Linked DNA regions of Homo sapiens: region 1 is linked to region 2. A link means that fine-mapping ties the variant in region 2 to the expression of a gene that starts in the linked region. Tissue or cell type: whole blood. Region 2 holds a variant in brackets; the other region holds the start of a gene. All regions are shown on one strand. Distances are between the middles of the regions.

Region 1 (2,907 bases), 69 kb after region 2:
AGCACAGAGAAGCCCACTACCTGCCAGCCGCTGCACGGCTGCAACAAGAGTAGGACTTACTTCGTGTTCTCAGAGCACAGATTACAACATTCGGGTAGACATTGAAGAGAGACAGATTTGGGGCTCAATAGGAAGAAAAGCTTTTTTAAAGGGCTGTCAAAACAACATGAAGAAAAACAGAATAGATACGTTGCCATGCACTGAACTGCTGGTCCTGAAGGGTGGAGCATGGGCTAAACATTATCTCTAGAAATAGACAGGAACATTGTTTTGAGTGTGGAGCGTGTCCTGCTGGTCTACAGTGATTCTTCCAATCTAAGTTTTGATGATTCTATGTCCAGCTTCCTCTCTTCTCCAGTCACCTTGTCGCCTCTAATTTCACTGGGCACCCATTTGGTTAAAAAAAAAAAGTGACAAAGGGAAATTAAGAAATTCTTCACATTGAACCAGAGTGTTTCTGCCTAAAGATAGTGACACAGAGGGTTAGCACGAGATTTATCACAGCAGACTGATTGATAGGTTTTAGACCTTTCCTTACTTTTGGCAACAAGTGAAACCTGGAAGCTCATAACAAAACTGCAAGAACCTTTAAGTGGACAAATAATAACCCGTGTCCTTGTTCTCTCATTTATGCCCAGATTTGTGGCCTCAGGAGCCAGAAGTACACCTTGATCTTTATGTTTACCTTGAGACAGCAATGAAGGGATGAAGGAATGAATGAGTTTATATTTCAATTAGGCGTGAGAGATGGAGGTGGTTTAAAAAAAAATAAAAGACAAGATAGCAGTTTTGACTGGGATAACAGCATCCTTTCATAGAATAGCCTCTAGACCTGGAAGCTGGAAGGGACCTACAGGGAAAATGTGTTGAACAAATGCCCTCTGCGTAGTGCATTAGTATGAGTACACCAGCAAGATCAAGATCGTCAGGATGCCCCATCTGCTGCTATCTTGACTTTAGGCCTGTGCCACGCACCGTTTTGCCATGACTTTCCGCATAGCACCAGGCCAAAAAGAACTGCAGAGTTTTGAGGGCAAGGCCGGTTTCCAGCCCAGAATCTGCAATGATCCCTCCTTGACAAGTCAAACAGAGTCACCCAAACAAGCGTGGCACGCAAACCTTTAGAGTTCAGCAAACCGAGGGCTGAGTTACCAAACCGTGTCCTTTCAGGGCATGCAAAAGGCTTTTCCTGCTCTGCTTCTACAAGGTAGTCAGGAAGCCAAGCTATTTGCCTTGGGTAGGGCTGGGTGGGGGTGGTGAGGTGGGGGCGCAGCAGGTTGTCCACACCCGGTTGCCAGTCTGAACCTGAGCCGCTCCAACAAGCGAGCCCTTCTCCGCGGCCCTTTGGCTCAGGGGAGCGCAGGCCGGCCTTCCTCCCGCACGCGGGCGCGGGCCAGCTGCAGATGGAGAACCCGGGGGGCGACCGCGAGCCCTCTGAGGCCCCTCAAGGGACAGGGCATGGGTGTGAGGGGTCGCGTGCGCCCCCTGGCGCCGGGTCCGCTGGGCGGGGTGGTGGGCGGGGACGGTGGGCGGAGGCGGAGGCGGGAGGCGGAGCCCCGGGGTTGGGAGTGCGGGGGTCGCGGCGCAGAGTGGGAGCCGGAGAGCGAGCGCGGCTGCAGCCGGCGGCATGGCTAGCACGGCTTCGGAGATCATCGCCTTCATGGTCTCCATCTCAGGCTGGGTACTGGTGTCCTCCACGCTGCCCACCGACTACTGGAAGGTGTCTACCATCGACGGCACGGTCATCACAACCGCCACCTATTGGGCCAACCTGTGGAAGGCGTGCGTTACCGACTCCACGGGCGTCTCCAACTGCAAGGACTTCCCCTCCATGCTGGCGCTGGACGGTCTGCATCCCCGCGGCCCCCGCCCTCAGCCCTCCTTCCTTGATGGCCAGCCCGCTAGGCGCCCTCTCGCCCCCAATACCCCCAGCGGGACCCCTAGACTGGACTCCTCTGAGGCCCGACCCGTCTCTCCCAACAGGGCCTTAGGGAGCCAGGGACGCTCCTGGTGCCCGCCCTCTCCTGATGGCTGTCTCGCGGGGCGCCTGTTCGAGCCTGGGACCCCGGGAGGGGGGACACGCAGACAGGCCCGGGTTGGTGACTCCCAGGCGTCGGGGGATGGGGAAGCTTTGCGGTCCTGAGAGTCAAGGAAGCGGCTGCCCTCCCCCACCCCCCATATCTTGGGGACCGCTGGGACCCAGAGTTCATGCTGCAGGGGCTTGTCTCCTCCACCTCCCTCCCCTACGTTCCCCGAAGGCTGGGTTCTGATAAAAATGGTGTCATTGCAAGCCAAATCCGTTTGTCCTGACCTCCCTTGAGCCATTTCGTTGGTTCTTTTAAAAGTAGGCGGGGGTGGGGGTTGAGAGGTTGGAAGCGGGAAAACATATTGCAGAATTTGTTGTTGTTATTGTTTCCCTTTAAAGAGCTTCTACAAACTTGTCTGCCTAGGCAACACTACAAACACTTCCTCCGAGTTTTAGGAAAATAATAGCCCTTGCGGTGCCGCGATGAGTCCGCAGAGGGTAGGGAATCTTGGGCCGTGAGAGCGTGGCGCCGGGAGCTGACCAGTTCTGCATCCGAGTCCCCGGTGCCTGCTGCTGTCCTGGGTTGTTCCTTTGTGGAGGTTCACCTGCGTTGCTCTGGTTAGTCAGGCCTTATGCTGGTAGCAGCTGGTGGATATTCACACAGAACTCTGGCTCTGTTGAGTTTCAAGACAACAGCCGATGTCAGCCCGGTCCCATTGATTGCTCAAGTTCTAGGCCCGTTGCTTCCAGGATTTTACAGCAAACGAATCCTGGCAGAAACTTAAGAGGAGTTATTTACATTACATATTTCTAGATTTGAGGTGTTTTTTTCTTTTATTACCGCACTTGCAGGTTTTGTTTACATAGCTGGGTAAATGAAA
Region 2 (2,907 bases):
GATAGATGGGTCTTCTAGGTGCCCATCAAATCACACCTTCTCGGGCTGCCTTCAGTGCACACCTATGAGACCAATCTTGCTGATCCAGGGCAGGAAGTCTAGTCCAGATCCACCCTGCTGTGTTACCCAGGAGCTCAGATTCAGTCTCAGAACCATCTGGATTGTTTTATTCTCATGATGTACTTAATCCTGATTGAAGTATAAATGAATAAACTGGCTGGGCGCGGTGGCTCACGCCTGTAATCCCAGCACTTTGGGAGGCTGAGGTGGGTGGATCACCTGAGGTCAGGAGTTTGAGACCACCCTGGCCAACATGGTGAAACCCCCATCTCTACTAAAAATACAAAAAATTAGCTTGGCATGGTGGCGTGTGCCTGTAATCCCAGCTACTCCGGAGGCTAAGACAGGAGAATCTCTTGAACCCAGGAGGCAGAGGTTGCAATGAGCCAAGATCGTGCCACTGTACTCCAGCCTGGGCAACAAGAGCGAAACTCCATTTCAAAAATAAATAAATACATAAATAAGCCCATTAAACATCACGAATTTAATGTGAGGCCAACATTCTTACTGGTGAGAAATGATTCTCCATCGTTCTTGGGAGAAAGTGACGCTGCCCGTCCTCAGGCCTGGGAGCTGCTGAGGAGGGGAGAGTGAGGAGGTTGGTTTATGTAAAAGGTGTGGCACTGCCACTCTGTGCAGATTCCTGGAGGATTCACCTGACTACTTATTGATTTTTCATTGAACAGCTTTCTCCTCGTTCAGACTGTGGGCTCTCTGAGAAGATGGGGAAACATTATTTGGGAGATTTACCCTTAGGGTGAAAATTATCTAAGCTTATTTCTCAATTTCCCTCTCCTCCCCTCATTTCTCATCTCTAATTTTTTTTCTTTCTTTTTTATTAAAATTTTTTGTAGAGACATGGTCTCACTATGTTGCCCAGGCTGGTCTTCAACTACTGAGCTCAAGCAATCCTCCTGCTTTGGCCTCCCAAAGTGCTAGGATTATAGGCATGACCCACTGTGCCCGGCCTCTTAATTTTTTAAGCATCACAGGTTGTATCCCCAGAAACCAGACTCTAAAGAGGCATTTCATGAAGGCGTGCCTGTGGGAGGGACCACACCTGTGGAAGGTAGGGGACAGAAGCAGGAGTGGGCAGAGCAGTGACGTTGAGCTACAACCCAAGGCTGACAGTCTCAGCAAACCTCACCAAGAGCTCTGGAGTTAGGTGGACTTTTAGAAACATGCCAAGCATGGCTGAGCTGGCCAAGCCCTTATGCTCCACCATCCATTGGTCACTCGATATGA[G/C]CTTCCCCAGGCATGAGTGTGCTATGGTCTGAATATTTGTGTCCCTCCAAAACTCGTATGTTAAAATGCTAACCCCCAAGGTGATGGTATTGGGATGTGGGGCCTTTGGGAGGTGATTAGGTCACAAGGATGGAGCCCTCGGGATGGGATTAGTGCCCTTATAGAAGACACCCCAGAGAGGTCCCTCCCTTATCCCTTCCACCACATGAGGATACAGTAAGAAGACATTCTCTATCAGTTAGGAAGCCAACCCTCACCAGGCATCAAATTTGCTGGTGCCTTGACTTTGGCCTTCCCAGCCTCTAGAATTGTGAGAAATACATTTCTGTTGTTTTTGAACTACTTAGTCTCTGGTAGGATAGCAGCCCAAAAGGACAAAGATAGGGCATGTCCTTGGGTGAGGCAGCTCTCTGCAGCTCAGTCACTTTCTGAGAGGGCTAAGAGCTACAGGCTGACTGCAGCAGCACTTCTAGCAGCTGGGGCCTGATGTCCTTCACTGTCCTTTCTGGGCAGCATATCACAGTATCCACTGCACACCACTCGGCTATCATTCTGTTCAGATACTTCTTGACTGGTCTTTCTACTTCTAATTTGTTCCATGTAGAATCTATCCTAAACACTACTTCCCTAATCTTTCTTAAAGGAAAATATTGGTAAAATATTTCATAGTCTGTCATTATGAATAATTTTATATGTCATTCCCCTGAAAAGAGGTGTTACAAGGTCAAGTTTTTTCAGTTATGCAGGAAATGTAAGTGTGTAAAGAAGCAGGATGAGGCCAGGTGTGGTGGCTCACGCCTGTAATCCCAGCACATTGGGAGGCCAAGGTGGGCAGATCACTTGAGGTCAGGAGTTCAAGACCAGCCTGGCCAACATGGCGAAACCCCGTCTCTACTAAAAATACAAAAAAAAAAAAAAAAAACCCACAAAAATTAGCCAGGTGTGGTGGCAAGCACCTGTAGTTCCAGCTACTCGGGAGGCTGAGGCACAAGAATCGCTTGGACCCAGGAGGTGGAGGTTGGAATGAGCCAAGATTGTGCCACTGCACTCCAGCCTGGGTAACAAAGTGAGACCCTGTCTCAAAAAAAAAAAAAAAAAAAAAAAAAAAAAAGAAGCAGAGTGCAATACAACATGGTATGATGGGGTCTTATTTAGTTTGATTTAGTTTGCCTCCACTTCACCCCACTGGTGAGGGAGGGATTCCGCCCTAGAGTTGAGAGGATGGTTGAATGTACAACATCCAAGCCTAGACAGATGAGATGGGCAGCAGGTAATTAGTCACATATGCTCATGGCCCAGGGAAGGACGACACTGCCCCACAGAGAGCCACGTGGGGGTTGCAGCTGGGAACAGAGTGAACCACCAGGAAGCTGTGGGAGGCAGGCTTTGTAGTAACAAGAGGGCGAGGTGCCCCTGGTTCCTGTAAGAGGATGTGTTTGGTTTGCTTGGATAATTCTACAGGCTGACGGGGACCTGAAGCCTAGCACTGCGCCTGGTCCCTTTGATAAGGAGGGTTGCTTGGCTAGAGGACTTTATCCACCAGGAGCAGAGTGGGAGGAGAACTTGCAGTTAATCCATTTGAGCCTCTGTACCCTGATTTTA

Evidence for each region. PIP is the estimated chance that this variant, and not a neighbour inherited with it, causes the effect. A credible set is the group of variants that fine-mapping cannot tell apart.
Region 1: CLDN10 starts here. The variant in region 2 is the best candidate, but not a certain one, in a credible set for the expression of CLDN10 in whole blood (TOPMed, PIP 0.57).

What each region holds. Positions count from the first base shown.
Region 1 is chr13:95,551,127-95,554,033 of GRCh38, forward strand. CLDN10 (claudin 10) reads left to right here and starts at 1,594. Exons shown (of 5, transcript NM_006984.5): 1 at 1,594-1,847. The coding sequence starts at 1,628.
Region 2 is chr13:95,482,480-95,485,386 of GRCh38, forward strand. The region is part of intron 3 of CLDN10-AS1 (CLDN10 antisense RNA 1); the gene reads right to left. It also overlaps a transcript of CLDN10 not described here. Among named protein-coding and RNA genes, the nearest start is that of CLDN10-AS1, 50 kb to the right of the region's middle. The variant G/C (reference allele first, on the strand shown) is at 1,306.